4 separate regions of the Homo sapiens genome follow, and all the other regions are linked to region 1. The links come from fine-mapping of genetic effects on gene expression. A gene starts in region 1. Each other region holds a variant in brackets. All regions are shown on one strand. Distances are between the middles of the regions.

Region 1 (5,143 bases):
CCTGAGCCACATCGATCTGTGGATGCTCTGACCCACTTCATTTCCTTCAGGCCACAGCCCAAAAGACGCTGATGTGACTGCTCCCCACCCCCGTTCTCAGAACCCAGAGCCAAAGGAAATTCTCCAGAGAAAACACACACACTTCCCAAGTCTTCCTCCCACACAGGTACCCTAGATCTGTCAGCCACAGACACCTCCCAGACCTACCCTGGCAATGAGGCACGTCTGCTGCCCAAGCAAAGTGCTTCCTCCTGCTTGGGCCACTCCTGCAGGACTTCACAGCTGCCGGGGCCATGCTCAGGACTGTCCTCTGGAGACCGGGGGCCTGGTTCCAGCTCAGCAGCTGACTCACAGTGTCAACAGATCCCACTTGCCCCCACCGGGAGCATGTGCGCTCAGGGCCTCTAATTCCCTATGACAGGCCCTCAACCTTCCGGCTCCCTTCCTCCCAATCACATCCCGTGCCACCATTTCCTATGGCTCCTGCCTCCAGCCCTGGTCTCTTTACTTGATGAGACTCTCTGACCTTTGTACAGTCTTTCGCTGTTTGCAAAGTGTTTCCACGTGCACCATTTCCTTTCATTCTTTACTACCAGACCACCATGTGACATGCCTTGATTGGTGAAGTCACCTGCTGAAGGTCACACAGCCAACACTGGAATTAAAGTGATATGGCTCCAAAGGCATCGGACAGTGCTCCGGTTATAGGGAACTCATCAGCATCTCCAAGCACCCACCTTGGCAATTTGGCGACCACCTGCCACCCTACCCTCAACATCATCTTTTTGGACTCATAAGTGCCTTCCCCAGCACAAGCTCAACCCTGTGATTCTTCTACCACTGATCCCACTCCCCCAAGAGATCCACAAAGAACTGAAGATTTCCCCTACACTGTAAGACTTCTCTAGGAGGAGCTGCAAATTGCTTCTCTGTAAAGTAAGGCACTAGGTGATGCTGAGTGAGACCTTCACCCAAAGCTTCCCAAAGGACTGGTGAGAGCAAACACAATCTCAGCGCAGATGGAGGGGTTTTAACATAGGAGCTAAGCAGAGAGGACAGACAGAGCCCTTGGAAAGGAATTTAAGCCTGGGGGTGGGAGTCCCGGTGGCCCCAGCAGATTCCCAGTGGCTGCAGAATCATCTTTCAAGCATACCCCAATCGATCCAATCCTCTGGACCCAAAGGCTCCCCAGCATCAAAGAAGAGAGGCAACTCCCAGATACCCTGGAGTGAACCCATCAACCCAGGGAGAAGGCAGGACCCCGTGACTACAGATAGATGGTGCGCCATACCACTCCCTCACTCGCTGACCCGGGTTACCTCTTGGTCCTGCTTGCTTCTCAGGACATATTCTGGGACACCGATCACCACTGAAAATCATCCACCCCTCCCTTCATTCCCAAAGCTAGATGAAAAGCTAGATGAATGGTTCTCTCTACCTTAGCCCAGGACAACGGTAGTGCCTGGAAGGTCTCTATCTGGGTTACCATCAGGGCCCTTGTGGTAGAAGCTTCTCCTGGCATCTCTTGTTTATGCCCATTATAAAGGACACCAACCTTCTCCCAGCCTTCTGCCCTCCTCAGTCCAGTGTACCCAACAGGCATTAAAACTGGACCCCCATGACAGAGGCAGTGTCCCCTTCATCGCCCGTGAGGAAGGATGGGCATTTACCCTTCCCATTCATCAGGATGGGAGGGCCACGGACTCCCCCCGCGGCAGTGCCGGGTAGCCCCCCGCACCACACCGTGCCAAGGCCCTTTCTCACAGTCATGCCAGGAACTCTAGCCATGCTGAGAACACCAATTCTTCAAGCCCCCAGTGCTATCACCCCAGATCATGTCAAGCCCAAGGCCAGAACCATCCCAACACCCAAGCAATGGCAGCACTTCCTCACACCCATGCTAGCGGCACCACCATGCCGGCACGAGCTGGCCACCTATCCCATAACCAGTCCGAAGGCCGTGCCCATCACCTACCTGTGCAGACAGCTGCACCACCTCACACCTGCGTGGCCACCACCGCACCAAGGTGGAGGCGAGTCTTCTGAGACCCGTTCCAGGAAAACCACGCCGCCTGTGCCGGACCCACGTTGCCCACGCCCGTGCCACGCGTGTCACCATCCCCACGCTGGTGCCAGGGGCTCCACAGACCTCACACCTGCCACGGGCGCGCGTGGCAGCTGCAACTCCGCCCGCCGACCCGTCGGGCCGGCCACCGCGCGCCCTGGACACTGCCCAGCCCGCCGCGCCGCTCGCACCGCGCCCGCGCCCAGGACCGGCCCGCCGCGCCGGAGGCCCCCCTTACCTCCCGCCCGCCGCAGGGCTCGGCCCGCCGCCGCGACCGCCACCTCCATCCTGGGCTCCCCAAGGCCCCGATTCACTAACGCCGCTTCCGCAGGGCGCCGGCGCCGGCGCGAAGGCCGCCTCCGCCCCCCGGGGGACGCTGCGTCCTTTACGTAAACCCCTCTCCGCCGCCAGCGGTGACCATGGCGACGGTCGTGGGGAGGCAGCGCCCCCTGGCGCCAGGGAGGGGAGCGGCGTCGAGGCCAGGGAGAGCCGAGTCTTCCGCGGGCGCCGGCCCTGCGCGTGGGGGCGGTGGGCGCCTGGCTCAGGCTCGGCTGGGGTCCCGTGGGCGGCCGGGAGGGGCTGGACTGGCCGCGATGCGTGCGGGGAAGGGAGCCGCCTGGGTGCCTGCCCCTCCTTTAGGTCCCTCGTGACCAGTTTTAGCGTGGGAGAGGGAAAAAAGGAAGTAGGATCACTGGAGAACTGGTTCATTTGTGGGGAGGAGAGAGACGGGTCCCACCTCCTCGGGGTGACTGAACTCTGCTTGAGAAGTCAGAGCATGGCTAGAGTTCCTGGCGTGACTGTGAGAAAGGGCCTTGGCACGGTGTGGTGCAGGGGTCTACCCGGCACTGCCGTGGGGGGAGTCCGTGGCCCTCCCATCCTGATGAATGGGAAGGGTAAATGCCCATCCTTCCCCACGGGCGACAGAGCCCGTGGGTACCCTGGGTACCCCCTCCTCCCTACCACCCCCCCACCCCCCACCCCTACCCCCGTTCCCAGTGCCCAGCATCGTGCCTGGTCTCCAAAGGGGTTTACTTGGTCAATTTTGAATTTCTGGTAAATGAAGAAAACCGCCCCTCCTGTTCCCCTTCACGCCCTTTCATTCACCGTAAGTCGCTTACACCTCCCTGGGAGCACTGTGCTGAACTGGGGGAGTGGAGCACAGAGAGGAGCAGAAGGCGGGCCCTGACTTCAAGGAGCTCATTCTGCTGGGGAGGAGACGCAGATGGAGGGGGTTTTAACACAGAAGCTAAGCCGAGAGGACAGACAGAGCCCTTGGAAAGGAATTTAAGCCTGGGGATGGGAGTCCAGTCTGCAGGTCGGGATGACTCAGCTGGGTCCCAAAGATCCAGTAAAGATTCATCAGAGACAAAAAGGGGAAGAACGTTTTCTTTCAGGCAAGAGAAGTGCCTCTAAAATGTTTCCTAGGCCCTGTTGCCACCCCCAAAATCACAGTGATCGCGCAGTTCAGTAGAAGTGGGAGCCATAGGTGAACAAGGAGGTGTGGGTAGTGGGGTGCCCGGCTTGAGCAGAAGCCTCGGTCTGAAAATTACGTGGACATTTGGGTTGGAAATGAGACTGTGAGGCCAGGACTGCCTTTTATTGAAGCAGATGGAGCCACTTCTGGAAGGAGTTCTGTGTTACCTGTGATTATTTAGAAAGCAAACTCACGTAGGTAACAAGGAAAATGAGGAGTGGGCGCATATACCCAGTGGGGCACCTCAGGGGATTCAAGGAGGAGTTGAATTCCTCAAGGCTCAGGAAGGGCAGAGATCAGGGGAGGCTTTAAGGGACAACTGTAGCAGTATCAGTTTAGGGATCTTCTTTCTAGATCATTGCCATTAATCAGAATCAAAACTGCCAGATTGGATGTCTCTTGGTTCAAAGTTCCCGATTCCCAGAAAAAAAGAATCTTATTAGTCCAGATCAGGCCACGGTCAATCAGCTATGGCCAGGGCAGAAAGTGCTTTGTGATACAAACATGTCAGTCCACTTTTCCCCGTTGAGAGACACTCCCAGAGGAGGAGAATCATGACCTGAACAGCCAGTCCAAAGACTGTCGGCCAGGGGCGGTGGCTCATGCCTGTAATCCCAGCACTTTGGGAGGCAGAGGCAGGTGGATCACCTGAGGTCAGGAGTTCGAGACCAGTCTGGCCAACATGGTGAAACCCTATCTCTACCAAAGTACAAAAATTAGCCTGGCATGATGGCAGGTGCCTGTAATCCCAGCTACTCGGGAGGCTGAGGCGGAAGAATCACTTGAACGTGGGAGGCAGAGGTTGCAGTGAGCCGAGATCGTGCCATTGCACTCTAGCCTGGGCAAGAGAGCCAGACTCCATCTCAAAAAAAAAAAAAAAAAAAGGCTGTCTACTACGGATCCATCCCTTAGCTGTCCCATGTACACAAACTCACATGTGTCCATGTGCACACATGTGTCCCGACACACGCCAGTCCTTCTTCCCATTCCTCCAAAGTTGTCTTCACCAGACAAGTACCAACAGTCACCTTCACACTTGATGTCATGAGGCTACTATTATTTCAAGATCTTCAAGGTGATTGATCCCATCTGGTCATTTAACTGAATTAAAGGGTTACTTTTACCATCACCAAATCCTTTGAACTCTTGCTACTCAGAGTGAGACATTGGCACCACCCAGAAGCTTAACGGGAATGCATAATCTCAGGCCCAAGAATCTCAGGTTGGCAACAAGATTCCCAGGTGATTTGAATGCACATGAAAGGCTGAGAAACACCACTATTATAAATGTTAGGTGACCGGGTGCGGTGGCTCACACCTGTAATCCCAGCACTTTGGGAGGCTGAGGCGGGTGGATCACCTGAGGTCAGGAGTTCAAGACCAGCCTGACCAACATGGTGAAACCCCATCTCTACTAAAAATACAAAAATCAGCTGGGCATGGTGATGGGCACCTGTAATCCCAGCTATTCGGGAGGCTGAGGCAGGAGAGTTGCTTGAACCCGGGAGGTGGAGGTTGCAGTGAGCCGAGATCCCGCTACTGCACTCCAGCCTGGGCAACAGAGTGAGACTCCGTCTCAAAAAAAAAAAAAAAAAAATAGGCCC
Region 2 (5,143 bases), 62 kb before region 1:
AGGCAGCATGAGAGGCACAAGGCAGAGAAGGGGCGGCCCTGACCCCACCCTCCTCTGGCCCCTCCAGGCCCCTGGCTGCCTTGGGCCCTGCTCAGAGGACGGCTACTGAACACATGATTGGGCGGGGGGCTTGCAAGCCCAGAACACATCCTGAGCCAAGCCCAGCAGCTTCTGTAAACATGTACAGCACTGCAGGCCACCTCGGCAGGGGCACCCCAGGGGGCCGGCCAGCAGGCACCAGATCTGGGGGGTGGCCAGGACGATGCCGGCCTGGACCACAGATGAGAATACATGTGTCGGGGGGCACTGCTCTCCACCTGGCCCCTGGGAGAGCAGCCAGCAGGCAGTGATGGGAGGCAGCTTGCCCATGGCCTGTCCTGGAGCAGGGGGTGCCAGAATGCCCCCATGGAGGGCAGTCAGGCTGAGTGTGGCCCACCCAGCAGGCTGCCCAGGCTCCTCCCCACTCCACACCCTTCCCCATCTTTCCCCATCTGTGGGGCCAGATCCCAGCCACCTTGGCTCTGGGGGTCCTAAGCTGAGGTAGGGATGCGGACCCCCAGCTCAGCAGCGATGCCTGTGCCTGAGGCTAAACTGCCCCTGGGGGTCTGTCCTTAAAGCTGCCCGGCAGGGGGCAGGCACCAGGTGCCCACAGGGCCACCTGCTCCTGCCTGGGCCCGGCTGGCCACGCAACTGGGGTGCTAGCGTGCTGAGATGACCAGCTCATCTTGCTTGGCGGGGCTGGCTCCGTGGCCAGTGGGGGTAGAAGTCCGGATCTTGTCAGCCGCCAGGCATTCCTGGCTACTGAGGCCCGTGGGCGTCAGGTCCATGAGCTCACCCGAGGAGCTGAGCGGGAAGGAGGGCGAGAGTGAGATGCCCGAGGAGGGGTCGGCTGAGCCGGCAAAGAGCCGTGGGGGCTTGGGCACCAGGTTGGGCTCGAACTGGGCACGGAGCAGGATCTCTTGCTGGCTGGGGGACTTGGGGCCCTCAGCGTAGTCACTGGTGGGGCTCTCGGGCACCACCATGCAGTAGAGGTCTTGGAAGGAGCTGCTCTTGCTGTCCAGGTTGAAGAGGCTGTCGATGAACTCGGCGAATTCCAGCACCTGAGGACTGGGCGAGTCCCCCAGGCGCCCATTGTGCAGCGCCAGCTCCCCGCGGGAGGCCGGCCCGCCACCCCCACCGCCAACCTCTTCCTCCTCGTCATTGGCCGCAGCACTGGGGGGCCGCTCAGGAGTGACGCCGCCACTGCCCAGGGCCGCCTCCAGGGGCTGCGTGTCCTGTGAGTGCTTGGACAGGCTGTCGGCCGCCAGCAGCTCAGTGCGCGAGCTCAGGGATGGGTTTTCCTCGGGGATGGCAGGGTCAATGTAGAAGAGGTGGCCTTCATCACGCTCCAGCACAGCGTGGAGGCTGGGGGAGCCCCGGATGCTGCGGAAGCCTGAGGAGCGGCGCGAGTCGAAGCTGTACAGGGACTCAGTGTCCGAGAGGCTCTCCATGGTGGCCAGTGGTGCCCGCCGGGCCTGCAGCTCCGCCGCCAGCCGCTCCTGGGTAGACAGCAGCAGCAGCTCCACCGGGTCCTGGCGGGCCGCCGCCGCAACCACTGGCGACAGCAGCCGCCCCTCCGAGAAGCCCTCCAGGCTCATCTCAGACTGGGACTTGCTCCTGCAGAGGGAGAGGAGAGCAGGGGGTATAAGACTCAGAAGGGAGAGGGGACTGAACCCCAGCTCCCTGGCTAAAAGGAACTTGCAGGGAATAAAGGGTACAGTTCATTTAGCAGTTGTTGATGATGTGCAGCAGGGAATGCTTATTTTCTTTTTTTTTTTTTTTTTTTGAGACAGAGTCTCGCTCTGTCGCCCAGGCTGGAGTGCAGTGGCACGATCTTGGCTCACTGCAAGCTCCGCCCTGGGTTCACGCCATTCTCCTGCCTCAGCCTCCCGAGTAGCTGGGACTACAGGTGCCCGCCACCATGCCTGGCTAATTTTTTGTATTTTTTAGTAGAGATGGGGTTTCACCATGTTAGCCAGGATGGTCTCAATCTGCTGACCTGGTGATCCGCCTGCCTCGGCCTCCCAAAGTGCTGAGATTACAGGCGTGAGCCACCGCGCCCAGCCAGGAATGATTATTTTTTAAAAACAACTCACAAGAACCCAAGATAGAAGACAAAAGAGTTGATGCTGGGTTGAGCCGCGGGGTCCCTGAGGGGCTAAGGCCCTGCTGGCAGCACTAGGACTTCAGGAGTGCTGCTGGGGTTCTCTGCACCAGAACCCCTGTCATTGTACCAATGTGAGAATGAGGCTCTGATAGACTGGCTGCCCCAGATCACTCATGAGCCTGCCCCAGGTCACTCATGAGGCCACAGTGGAATGAGAGAGACAGAGGGAGGGAAGGAGGGAGGGAGGGAAGGAGGAAGGGAGGGAGGGAGGGAGGGACAGAGGGCAGCAGGGAGACAGGGAAGGGAGAGAGCCCTGCACATAGCTGCCCAACTGGTTCCACCCCAATCTCAGAGCCAGCAACCCTGGGTGCCACTCCCAGGGATCTCATCACTTCCTTCCTCATCCGGGTCTCCTCCTGTCTCCCATGGGCCGCAGCCCTCTGCTGGGTGGGGAGCCTAGTGCCCCTGGCTCCGCAGACCAGCCTGCAGGGAATGAGTGACAGGGCAGGGAGTGGGTGGCTTGCAGCAGTCACCGCAGCCGGAAATGGACACTGGCTTCTTCATCGGGTTGTGCAGCTGCCACAGGAAATGCACAAATGGCAGGGAGAGACGTCCAGTTGTCCCTACCAAGGGCCAGGAAGCAGCCTCTTGACCAGATCTGTGACCAAGCACACAGGGCCTGTGTGGGAAGGTCCTAGAAAGGCAGGACAATCCTCCCCTGGAAGGACTACCACTTAAGAGCCTCGCACCCCTCAAAGAGTGTGTGAATAGCAAGGGCGCTGTGGCCCCCATGTGCGTGCCCCTGTGAGCATGTGTGCACGCCTCTGTTCATGTGTATGAGTGTGTAGACCAGACGTCTGTGTATGTCAGCTGGCTTGTGTGTCTGGGTCTGTGCACAGGTGTATTCATGCATTTCCATGAGCA[C/G]CTGCCTGTCCACATGTGTCCTTGTATATGTGTCTCCACCTTTGTCTTGGTGTGTGTCTTGTACATGTGCATGTCTGTAGGGGGTGACCTGTGTACTTATAACTAATAATTGTGTGCACATGTATGTGTGTAAGCTTCAATACAAATATGTAAGTAAATGGGTGTCCATCTGTTTGCGTCTAAGTGTGTAAGAGTGAATCTGTGCAGGCCGGCCATGGTGGTTCACCCCTATAATCCCAGCACTTTGGGAGGCTGAGGCGGGCAGATCACCTGAGGTCAGGAGTTCAAGACCAGCCTGGCCAACATGGTGAAATCCCATCTCTACTAAAAATACAAAAATTAGCTGGGCACGGTGGCAGGCGCCTGTAATCCCAGCTACTTGGGAGGCTGAGGCAGGATAATCGCTTGAACCTGGGAGGTGGAGGTTGCAGTGAGCCAAGGTCGCGCCATTGCACTCCGGCCTGGGGGAAAAGAGCGAGACTTCGTCTCAAAAAAAAAAAAAAAAAAAAAGAGTGAATCTGTGCTTTTGTGGCCCAGGGTTTGTGGGTCTGTGTGCCTCCCCTGGCTCATGTAGGATTCAGGGACAGCAGGCTGTGGGACAGCTGGAGCACAGCAAGAGAGCCCTAGAGCACAGAGGGTGAGTTTGACCCCTCCTGTGCACGTGTGCAGAGCTGAGCCCAGTGCATGCACAAAATGCATGTGCACACAAGTCTATGTGCTCTGAACCACACTCACCCTGGGGTGGGGCTGGGAGTGGCCAAGGCTCACCTGACGCTGCTGTTGCGGTGGTCTGCAGTCGGCAGCTCCAGGGCAAGGCCAGTGGGCATGGGCGGCCCCGTGGGGAGTGGCTGCTGCTGGAAGATGAGCTCAGGAGTCAGGTCCACCTCGGTAGGGCTCACCATGACCTTGGCTGCAGAGAGCAGAGCGGTCTTCCCCTTGTTGTAGTTCTCCAGCACCTGAGGACAGGACAGAGGAGGCTGGGGGTGGTGGAGGGACATCAGGCCCCATCGTGGGGCCGATGTGGAGCCAGGGCCCAGGCCTCTCAGGCCAAGCAAAGCCTCATGGAGTCACTTGGGTCCCACTCTCCTCCTCCTGAGGTCACCACTCCCCAAGGCCTGAGACTTGCCCATCTGGTCACGACTCGCCCCACAGCCCGGCGAGTGCTCCTGCCCTACCTGCCTTCAGCCTTTCCGCAGCCAGGGGATGGCTGTGGCTGTCGCTGCTTGCCCATTCATCTGTTAAGGGCCAGGTGGCCTTCCGGGCCTCTGAGCTGAGCCTGCCTCAGGGACAGGCCCCTGGGAGTCTCCTTATCTCCTCCCCACCATGGGGCAACGTGGTGATGTGGACAGAGCCAGGGGTGTGAGGTTGAAGTATTTGAGTGGGGCTTTCTGGCCCAGCTACCTACTTCTCTGAGCCCCAGCACCCTTGTCTGTAAAATCGGGCAGTGATCTGATGGTGCTTACGGGGTTCTGATGGGGTGACAGTGCCTTATTCCCTGGTGGTACCCTGCCGGGAGCTGCCTCACCTTGTTGAGCCCCTCCATGACCACATAGGGCAGGTGCTCATGCAGCATGGCTGGCGAGATGATCACCTCATTGAAGGCCTTGTTGTCGCCCCAGATGGCAAAGTATGTGGGCTCCTCCTGCTCACAGCAGCTGAGAGGGACATGGACAGAGGGGAGTTAAGGGTGGGGTGGTGGCCTGGCCCTCGGTGCCAGGGCCTCCTGGCTCTGTTCTCTGCCCTGCTCAGCAGAGCTGGCATGGTTTGGAGGCCCCTGGCCTGCCTGGCAGCAGGGCTCTGTTCCCTGGCCTGGCTCCTGCCCTGCCCTCAGCCTGGGAAAGGCTGACCTCGAGCCTCAGCCATGGTCCCTCCACAGCCTTCGACCTGCTTTTGGCCTGGGCCACACCTGCTCCACCTGCTGCACGGCCCAGCTCACCAGCTGTGTCAGGGGAGGAAGCCGACCCTGGAGGGAGGAGCCAGGGCCCAGCCGTCTGAAGGAGCACAGTGGGAAAGGTCTACCCACTTGCCTGCTCCTATTCTCTCTCCTGGCGCAGCCCCCACCTTGCTCACAGC
Region 3 (5,143 bases), 49 kb before region 1:
CCGGTAGCCCTTCCTCACACACCACCCGGGAGGAGAGGTGCAATCGCTGGGGGATGGGACAGGGGTACTCACGAGCAGGACCGAGCCAGTTGGCAGAGGCCGCAGGCGGGCTTCCGCATCAGGTACATGGGCCACCCGTAGGCAGCCAGGGCAAAGAGCATGTAGTAGCAGACCTCTTTGTAGCGGAGCATCTCTTGCTAGAAGAGAGGAGGCAGAGGGCGGTCACCTCCTGCCCTTCCTGCCTACAGCCTCAGGGCCCAGCAGTTCCCCAGGGTGGGAGCCTGCGGACCCAACCCCTGGCAGGGAGGGGTTGCTGGTCCCCTGTTGAGGTGTGGGGCCCAGGCCTTGGAGGAAGGACACTCCTCCAGGTGATAATTGCATTTCCCTAATTATCTCCATGCAACCAGGACACGAATCCTCAGAGACCTGTCCTGTTGCTCCAGTCTCAGAATTAATGATTTGGGGACAGAAAATCACTTGGTCCATTTCCTTGCCTGTTTTCCAGAGAAGGGAAGAGTTGAGGGATGTGAGTAGTAATCCCCCCACCTCGGCAATCAGCCCTGAGAAGGGCCCTTGATGCTGGGAAAATGTAGCCCTGAGAGGCCCCAGCCCTCCAGCTGGGCGGCGTGTGTGGGCCTTGGGCAACAGGGCAGCCACGCTAGGCCAGGAGACCAATCACCAAATCTCTGGCCCTTGGGTTCTTTGACTGCAAATATTGGGAGCCTTCAACTTGACTCAGCCAGCTGCAGGCTCCCAGGGCTCCGGGCAGGGGCTGCGTTGGTGGGAGACTGGGATCTCTTGGGAGAAAGGCACCAGTTTGAAAGCCAGTGTGTCTGAGGCCCAGCAGCCACTGTTGATGCTGAGGAGGTTATTGGCTGCTGGGGTGGAGGGAGGAAGAGGCAGGGGTGCCCCAGCAAAGTGTCTGCCAGCTTCCAGTCTTTCCCGAGTGCCCCAGGCACCGGGAGAGGGAATTAGTCACCTTGTAAAAGTTAAGGAGGGTGGTTAGTCACCTTGTGAAGTGAAATAGGTGGCACCTTGATCAGGGCCCGGAGGGGTGGAAACATCCCTGGCCAGCTCAGCTGCTCTTCAGGAACGAGAGTGGAGAGGTAATTATCCTCTCCCTGTCAGAAGCTCCCTGCAGCCCTGGGGGCGGGGTGGGCCCTGGCAGCCTCTGCCAGGTGGCAGGTGTGACCCTGGCACCTCGATGGGAGTCACTTGATGGGAGTCACAGCTGCCTGCCCTCCCCGCTCCCTGTGAGGAGTGGGAGGGAGAAGGTGGTGAGAACAGCCAGGGCAGAGCCTGGCAAGCAGAAATGGGCTGGTTTGGGGCACTTACTATGGATGTGGCTATTTTTAGAGAGGATACAAATGCCTGCTTTAGTGGGGAGTAGGGACAGGCAGGGAGGACTGAGGCTTTTCTAGAGGACTGAGTGTTGGTTTTTTTTTTTTCTTCTTTTTAAGGGACAGTGCAGCTGGAGTGCAGTGGCAATCATAGCTCACTGCAGCCCTGATCTCCTGGGCTCAAGCAATCCTCCTACCTCAGCCTCCCAAGTAGCTGGGGTCACAGGCATGTGCCACCATGCTTGGCTAATTTTTTTTTTTTTTGTAGAGACAGGGTCTCACTATGTTGCCCAGGCTGGTCTCAAACTCCTGGCCTCAAGCAATCCTCCCACCTCGGCCTCCCAAAGTGCTGGGATTGCAGGCACAAGGCAGCACACGTGGCCTAAAGGACTGAGATTTCTAAGAGACGGAATCCTTTCCATCAGCATCCTGGCTGGCACCGAGGCTTCCTGGCACTGTGATGGGAATGGCTCGTGTCCTCTCAGCACAGCTCTGGTAGAAGGTGTGCCTAGTGTCATTTCACAGATTCAGGATCCAGCTCAGAGGGGATGAGGGGCCTGCTGGAGGTCGCAGCGACAGGCATCAGAGCAGATGCACGCTCCAGCCATTTGCTTCCTGAGGCAGGGCCTGTTTCTCCCGGCTGCCAGCTGTGGTTTCAGCCTGGGCTGTACTGGGCCCTGGGCTGTACTGGGCCCTGGGCTGTGTGCTGGGCCCTGGGCTGGGGTTCTCCCACCATGTTACTGGCACCACCTTTCCCTATTACACACTGGATTTCTACGAAAGGCGATTGAGAAAAGGTTCCACTACTAAAAAAGCTTGGAAACCAAGTACTACGCCCATTGCGTTTCATTAACAGCAGCAGCAGCAGCAAAAATGCTAGCAGCTCACCCTGGT[A/G]AAGTGCTCTGTCATCTCAAGAGGCCAGGACCAGACACTTCTGAACTTGGTAAAGGAATTCAGGGGATTTGTCTGTCGAACCGGTGTGAAGTGGGTGGTTCTCGTGAGGGGCATGATCTGAGCAGAGAGGCTCTCTGGAGAGCCGGGGGGAGACCGGGCAGGGGCAATGTGGCTGGCACTGCAAGGGCAGCTGGGAGGAGTTTGCTTAGGTCATTGTGGCAGAGTGGGAGGGATGGGGACGGGGTGGGGTGAGAGTTGATGTCTGACTCACTGAATTCTTGAGGTCGAGGTACTTGGTGTTTCTGGTCACCGGCATCCCAGACAGGAAGGCCAAGATGTCATTGTTTGCCTGTAAGACCGGCAGGTGAAGAAGGACAATCACTGGCCCAGGCCCGGCTGCATGGCTGGGAAAGGGGGCCCAGGCCCTGGCGTCCGCCTGCTTCCCAAAGGCCGAGAAGCCCAAACGAGCATGCAGCTTCTAGTTCTTCCAAGATTCAGCCACTTTTCCAAAATCTGAGGTTTCCCCATATTTCCAGATGCTCCCCTTCTACCCAAAACATCAAGCCCCTGAGGACATTCCTGGCCCACAGCAGGCGAAAGGTATTTTGTATGAGACACTGAGAAACCCTAACTGGGGTTGGTGTGCTGGTGGGGATGTGGGGTGGGCGGAGCGGCCACGCAGAAGACCGACTCGGGAGCTCACCACGTCCACTAAGCCTGTGGTTAGAAGTCCTTTGAGGGCCAGCCCCAGAGGCAGCCATGCACGACCCAGAAAGTCCCTAGAGTAGTAGTCACGGAAAGCCTGGCCGAAGGACAAGCTCAGGAAGGCAGGGGGAGCCAGAGGTAAAGGTGACCTCCAGGGTCCAAGAGAGTGCGTGGTCACTGGGGAGCTGCGTGGGAGCCGAGCCCTCCGCTGCAGGGGCCACAGGGAAGGGGCCTGAAAGAAGGGTGGTGTGGAGAGGTGACCTGGAGAAGGGGCTGGTGGTGCTCACCTCGTCCAGCACGGCGTTGCGCTTGGCCCGCTGCCGCTGCCGGAGCAGCACCAGGCCAGCAATGATGTCGGATGGCACAATGTCAAGGTCCCGGAAGAACTCCGCAAAGAGGTAGGCGATTTCTGAGTAGGCATCCTACGAGGTCCAGGAAGGCAGGAGGCAGTGGCAGGGGAGCAGGAGAGAGGACGAGAGGCCAGGAGTAAATCCCCCAGGGCTGGGAGGCTGCAGAAGCAGGTGTCTGCTCGGGGTCCCCTGGACAGGTTCTCCCCAGCACCTCCACAGCGCCCACTGAGCCTGACCCCATGTGGCCCTGTGACCCTGAGGGCCCTGCCCAGGGCTCCTAGACCTGGCAGTAGCCACCCAGCCCTCTCCTCTCCTTGGAATTCGCATGGTGCCCACTGTCTACCAAGAGCAGGCGCCAACTTGAGCCACTCCTTTTTGCTTTCCCAGACGCTAGAATCAAGGCCGGGTGGCTCTGGCTCATTTCTCCTCTAGCCATTCTCTCCAGCACAGAAACCAAACTAAGCTCCTGGCTGCCTCTGACCCACCAGCTGGGACCTTGGAAGTCCCTCGTAAGGCCTCTGTGGAGCCTGCCAGGTCTCAGGGCCCCTCCCCCAGCTACCCACAGGCTGCTGGCTCAGTGACCCCCACAATGTGCCCTAGAAGGGGGTGTACTCTCTGGCCCAGTGGTCCCCCATGGCTTCTCTCCAGGCCCTTGGCCTGAAGACAGTGCATGTCTGGGCCTCAGGGCAGGAGGCGAGCCCTGCTGGCTGGTGCCCTCTTAGTCTTCCCTTCCTGGCCCCAGGCTGCAGCCCAGAGCCTCTTCCCTAACCTGTTAGGAGACGCTGAGGTGGGAACAACCACATGGCAATGAAGTCTGTCTCACTGGGTCTCGCCCCTGAGTGTTTGGCACTTGTAAGTGACTAAATCAAGGGCTGCAAATTCAAATGCCGAATGGAGCCAAACGGAGCCAGATACTGCTCGGCTCCAGCTGACCGGAGGCCCTCCAGGGCCCACTTCACCAGATTCAGAAATACAGAAGTTTATGGAAATACCCCTGATTTTTAAATGCTGGCATCCAATTAAAATGTGTAAGCAACACAACACACGCTGATCAAAACATGCTTGGGACCAGACCTGCCCCCTGAGGCCATCAGTGTCTAACAGGACCTTTGCCGTGGGGCTCTGCTGTGATGTGCTATCTTTTCCCCAGACTCTGACAACAGCCCCAGCTCTGCCCGTGCACCCAGAGGGGCAGGCGTGCCCTCCACACAGCAGCCCCAGCCTCCATCCGCCAGGGGCCGGCTCTCTGCCCTCTGCATGGCCTGCCTTGCAGCCCAGACCCCTCAGACCGCCCCAGAGAGACCCAAGGGGGTGCTCCCCGCCCACCAGGGAACCTCGGGGGCTTTCTTACACTTGATTACTCACTCTACGGCTCACCAGGGGACGCTGGTGGGCAGGAGCCACTCGAGGCTTCCCGGTGGCTTCCGTGGAAGGCACTTTGCTGTCTGCCTCAGGGAGGAGTGGTCTCCTGACCTCACTGGCTCTGCTACTAACTAGCTGTGGGACGCTGAGCAAGTCACTCCACCTCTCTGGGCCTCAGCTGCCTGATCTGTAAAATGAGGGGTGGGACTAGATGATCTCTAAGGTCCCTGCCCGCTGCGGGGCACCCCTGGATGATCCCGGGGCCTGCCTCCCTTCCCTCCCCTTGGGGGCCGCCCCCAGCTGGCCCTGTCTTCCTTCTGCAGTGCCCTGGCATTAAGTCCGGCCCTCTGGTCACTCCTCTGAGCTCCCAGGTGCTGAAGGCTATGTGTCCCCATCTAGGACCGTGCTAAACGCCTATCGGCTTTGCCAGGCCTTCTTGATTAATTTGCTGCTGGTGAAACGCTACTTTTCTTTGTCTTCAGGTCACCCTGA
Region 4 (5,143 bases), 22 kb after region 1:
GGGTTTCAGTTGCGTACATCCTTGCCAACAGTTGGTATTGTCATTCCTTTCAATTTTGCCAATTTTCCAGCCACCTTTTGAAGACTGTAGCCCCAACCTGCTCCTTTTGTTACCGGAAAGGGGCCCCGGTCCAGACCCCAAGGCAGGGTTCTTGGATTTTGTGCAAGAAAAAATTTGAGGCGAATCCATAGAGTAAAGTGAAGGCAAGTTTATTAGAAAAATAACAGAATAAAAGGGCTGCCGGTTAATCATTTTTATGGTTCTTTTTCTTTTTTTTTTTCTTTTTTTTTGAGACAGAGTCTTGCTCTGTTGCTCAGGCTGGAGTGCAGTGGCGAGATCTCGGTTCACTGCAAGCTCCGCCTCCTGGGTTCACGCCATTCTCCTGCCTCAGCCTCCCGAGTAGCTGGGACTACAGGCACCCGCCACCATGCCCGGCTGATGTTTTTTATTTTTTTAGTAGACATGGGGTTTCACCGTGTTAGCCAGGATGGTCTCTATCTCCTGAGCTCGTGATCCTCCCACCTCAGCCTCCCAAAGTGCTGGGATTACAGGCGTGAGCCGCCATGCCCGGCCTCTTTATTTTTTTTGAGATGGAGTTCCGCTCTTGTTGCCCAGGCTGGAGTGCAATGCTGTGATCTCACTCACTGTAACCTCTGCCTCCCAGGTGCAGGAGATTCTCCTGCCTCAGCCTCCCGAGTAGCTGGGATAACAGGCACCCGCCACCACACAAGGCTAATTTTTTGTATTTTTAGGAGAGACAGGGTTTCACCATGTTGGCCAGGCTGGTCTCGAACTTCTGACCTCAGGTGATCCATCCACCTCAGCCTCCCGAAGTGCTGGGATTAGAGGAGTGAGCCACCATGCCCAACTGGTTATTTCTTGAGGATATGCTAAATAAGGGGTGGATTATTCATGCCTCCCCTTTTTAGACCATATAGGGTAACTTCCTGACATTGCCATGGCATTTGTAAACTGTGTACCAGTGAGGGCCACCAGAGGTCAGCCTCATTGCCATCTTGGTTTTAGTGGGTTTTAGCCGGCTTCTTTACTGCAGACCGTGTTATCAGCAAGGTCTTTATGACCTGTATCTTGTGTCAACCTATCTCATCCTATGACTTAGAATGCCTAACCATCTGGGAATGCAGCCCAGTAGATCTCAGCCTTATTTTACCCAGCCCCTATTCAAGATGGAGTTGCTCTGGTTCAAACGCCTCTGACACTTCATCCATCCCTCGCAACGGCCCCACTGGGAACAGGTGATTGCCCTGGACTGACCTGCAATTGTCCAGCGCCTCCATTTGGGCTGGACAGGAGGTCAGCTAGCCTCTTGGTGGGGGCTGGCCTAAGCTCTGCCCCATGGAGTTGCTCCATAATGAGTGGCACTAGGATGGCCCAATCAAAGCCTTTTCTCAGCACATATACCAGCAGGGAGTAGGTGACATGGATCAGGACTGTGGTAGTGACCCTGAGCCACCCCAGGGGGTTGAGCTGGGTCCTGGGGGATTCTGGCGCTGGTGCATCAGTCACTTCTTTCTTGCCTCTTCCTAGTTTCCACCTATGCCTTTTACTCAGCATTGGCCATAAGTGCCCCAAGCACTGTCGCTGGAAAGCATTTGGCTTCTACAGATGTAATGTTTTTCAAATGAATGTGGATGCCACTGTGATTAATAACATTCAAATTCACTGAAAGCATTTCTGAATTCAAAGTAGTCTTTTGTGCTGTATTTTCTCAGCCAATGAATACATTAAAATACAGCTATTAACAAATGGGATGGAAATAGGTGAAGCTGTTGAAATTTAAGAGTTCAGAAACAAACAGAGTTCAGATGGGCCCTGGATGTAAACCAACATGGCCATTTTGGAGTTTCCATTGGGACAGGATGCTTCTGATCTTCCACCTCCCTGGAGTCACCCTTCCTTGTAAGATCCAGTGAAAATGGCTGTCTCTGTCCTTCATACCAGGGAAGGCTAGCATCCTTCTCAATGTTTTTGAGAATCTCCAGTGAATGCCTATGATCTCCTGTTACCTCTTAGCCCAGATTTCTTCAACCCCGCCCCAGCTCCCTCCATACTGCTGCGATTTCCCTTCGCAATGCTTCACTAGAGCACAGGTCTGGCCCTTGCTAGTGGGGTGATCAAACAGGGGCCACAGGAGCCAGACTGCCTGGGTTCAAAGTCTTGCTCTGCAACTGATGAGCTGATTGGCCTTGGGCAATGGTCTCCATCTCTCTAGGCTTTGGTTTTCTCATTATAAACTGGGGGTAAGTGTGGCCCCTACCTCTTAGGCCTTGCTGCAGGTCACATGAGTTAGTGTGAGTAAAGCATCAGCAAGTTAGTTAGGGAATATGAGCCATCATTTTTATTGATCCCCCTCCAAGCACTATAGTGTGTAACTGACCTTTTTTTTTTTGAGACCGAATCTGGCTCTGTCACCCAGTGTAGTGCAGTGGTGCAATCTCTGCTCACTGCAACCTCTGTCTCCCAGGTTCAAGCAATTCCCCTGTCTCAGTCTCCCAAGTGCTGGGACTACAGGTGTGCACCACCATGCTTGGCTAATTTTTGTATTTTTAGTAGAGACAGGGTTTCACCATATTGGTCAGGCTGGTCTCGAACTCCTGACCTCAGGTGATCCACCCATGTTGGCCTCTCAAAGTGGTGGGGTTACAGGCATTAGCCAAGGCACCCAGCCTGTGTAACTGACTTTTATGGACGAATTGGGAACAGCAGAGGGGGGATTACAGATTTACAGTTTAGCACCTTTTGTCTGTCCCCACCCCAGGAAGCGTCTCAGCAGCCTGCCATCTCCTCTGGCCTTGGCCTGTTGCCATTTCTTGGGGGCTGCTCACTTCCCACCTCTCTGGACCCTTCTCCCAACTGTCCTCTAAGTTCCACAGCCTCCCGCCCGCCTCTCAGCCACCAGAAGAATATGCAGATTGGTTTTACGGGGCACCTGCATTCTGGTCTCAGCTGCTGTAATTACAGAAAAGGCTCTAAGACAATGACACCCA[A/G]TGAGGCCAAGACGGCCCCTCAGAGGAGTCTGGGAAATCTGCAAGGGCATTTTTCTTTGTCAAAATGGGAGACAGAGACCTGTTTTTATATAAACACAAAATAAATAACTTTTGCATGCTTTCAACATACACAGAATTTTCTAGGAACATGACTATTGTGTATACAAGAGAAGATTGTCCTTTGTTTTGCTTGGAATTTGGCCAAGACTCGTTGCCCATTTCATGTCACTGGCAACAGCACCGCCTGTGGGGTCTGAATCACCATCACAACTACCTGTGTCCATCTGCCTTGTGGCCGCCATGGTCTCCGTGGCCCCACCTCTAGGAGCAAGTGTGGGGCCACCTCATCTCTGGCTGTAGTCAGCCTGCAGATTTTCTTTCTTTTTCTTTTTTCTTTTTTTTTTTTTTTTTTTTGAGATGGCGTCTCACTCTGTTGCCCAGGCTGGAGTGCAGTGGCACAATCTTGGCTCGCTGCAACCTCCATCTCCCAGGTTCCAGCGATTCTCCTGCCTCAGCTTCCCAGGTAGCTGGAATTACAGGCGCCCACCACCGCGCCTGGCTAATTTTTGTAGTTTTAGGAGAGACAGGGTTTCACCATGTTGGCCAGGCTGGTCTCGAACTCCTGACCTCAGGTGATCCGCCCACCTCAGACTTCCATAGTGCTAGGATTACAGGCATGAGCCACCACGCCCAGGCTGCCTGCAGATTTTCATCCTGAAATTTATATTATTTTATTAGAAATTACCCTCCTTTTATTTCTCCTTCATATTATAGTTAGGATATCATTGATTTTTTTTTTAAAGCATGTGTGAGGGTAGGTTAGTTTATTTATGAATTTCATTTCAGCTTGGTGAAGGGAACATTACAAAATATTTGTAATGGGGGGCGGGGGTTGGGTCTGACTTCTCTACCTTTGCATAATTCAAGAAATCCATTTCTGAGCTCTCGGCAACCTGGAGTGATTTGCGTCTGAGATGAAGTGCCCAGAGGTGCAGGCCGCTGCTGCCCTTTAGTCTTTGGAATCGCTTTTTCCTCTTCCCTATAAGTGTTCTGGGTTCACGACCCCATTGCTAATCTCTTGCTCCCAGGCCTCTGGCCTGGACCTGTCCTCCACAGAGTGGCCCCAGGAGATGCTCCCAGCATATCAATACTTCTCAGCTTGAAACACTCATGTGGCCCCACGTTCCCCATGATCTACGTTTGTCCCTTGAGCTATGTGCAGGGCACAGCATCAGTTCAGCTCACTCCTCCCCTCTCATTTTGCATCCAGCCTCCTCTCCTTTGCCCATGCTGTTCCCTCTGTCTGGAATGCTGCCTCACCACCCTGCACCCCTGCACCCTCTCCTCCCTGCACCCCCTGTACCCTCACCACCCTGCACCCCCTGCACCCTCACCACCCCGCACCCCCCTGCATTCTCACCATCCCTCACTCCCTGCACCCTCACCACCCCGCGCCCCTGCACCCTCACCACCTCGCACTCCCTGCACCCTCACCTCCCCGCACCCCCTGCACTCTCACCACCCCGCACCCCTGCACCCTCACCACCCCACACCCCCTGTACCTTCACCTCCATTTCTGACTGTCCCCAAGGACTTCCTATTCTTCTCTTCATTAGAAACTCAGTCCTGAAGTTCCTGGGTCTTGAAGATGCCTCTAGAAAATCAGCTTCTAGACCAGGCGCAGTGGCTCACACCTGTAATTCCAGCACTTTGGGAGGCCGAGGCGGGCAGATCACCTGAAGTCAGGAGTTCAAGACCAGCCTGGCCAACATGGCGAAACCCCATCTCTACAAAAATACAAAACTTAGCCGGGCGTGGTAGTGTGCACCTGTAATCCCAGCTACTCAGGAGGCTGAGTGGAAGAATTGCTTGAACCTGGGAGGCGGAGGTTGCAGTGAGCTGACCAAGATCATGCCACTGCACTCCAGCCTAGGCAACAGAGCGAGACTCTGTCTCAAATAGAAAGAAAAGAAAATCAGCTTCCACCTGAGCGTGGAGTTGGGCAGGGGAGAAGGGTGTGGGGAAAAGCAAGAGAGATCAGATTGTTACTGTGTCTGTGTAGAAAGAAGTAGACATAGGAGACTCCATTTTGTTATGTACTAAGAAAAATTCTTCTGCCTTGAGACTCTGTTAAT

What was found. PIP is the estimated chance that this variant, and not a neighbour inherited with it, causes the effect.
Region 2: its variant is the best candidate, but not a certain one, in a credible set for the expression of DAGLA in blood mononuclear cells (TOPMed, PIP 0.70).
Region 3: its variant is the best candidate, but not a certain one, in a credible set for the expression of DAGLA in whole blood (INTERVAL, PIP 0.79).
Region 4: its variant is the best candidate, but not a certain one, in a credible set for the expression of DAGLA in whole blood (INTERVAL, PIP 0.67).

What each region holds. Positions count from the first base shown.
Region 1 is chr11:61,677,665-61,682,807 of GRCh38, reverse strand. DAGLA (diacylglycerol lipase alpha) reads right to left here and starts at 2,417. Exons shown (of 20, transcript NM_006133.3): 1 at 2,304-2,417. RefSeq lists an enhancer at 1-220.
Region 2 is chr11:61,740,045-61,745,187 of GRCh38, reverse strand. It overlaps DAGLA (diacylglycerol lipase alpha), which reads right to left. Exons shown (of 20, transcript NM_006133.3): 18 at 4,596-4,725; 19 at 3,839-4,026; 20 at 1-1,656. The coding sequence ends at 699. Among named protein-coding and RNA genes, the nearest start is that of MYRF, 10 kb to the left of the region's middle. RefSeq lists an enhancer at 4,180-4,753. The variant C/G (reference allele first, on the strand shown) is at 3,071.
Region 3 is chr11:61,726,371-61,731,513 of GRCh38, reverse strand. DAGLA (diacylglycerol lipase alpha) reads right to left here. Exons shown (of 20, transcript NM_006133.3): 7 at 3,227-3,361; 8 at 2,506-2,583; 9 at 73-197. Among named protein-coding and RNA genes, the nearest start is that of MYRF, 24 kb to the left of the region's middle. The variant A/G (reference allele first, on the strand shown) is at 2,235.
Region 4 is chr11:61,655,858-61,661,000 of GRCh38, reverse strand. No RefSeq gene overlaps it. Among named protein-coding and RNA genes, the nearest start is that of DAGLA, 22 kb to the left of the region's middle. The variant A/G (reference allele first, on the strand shown) is at 3,009.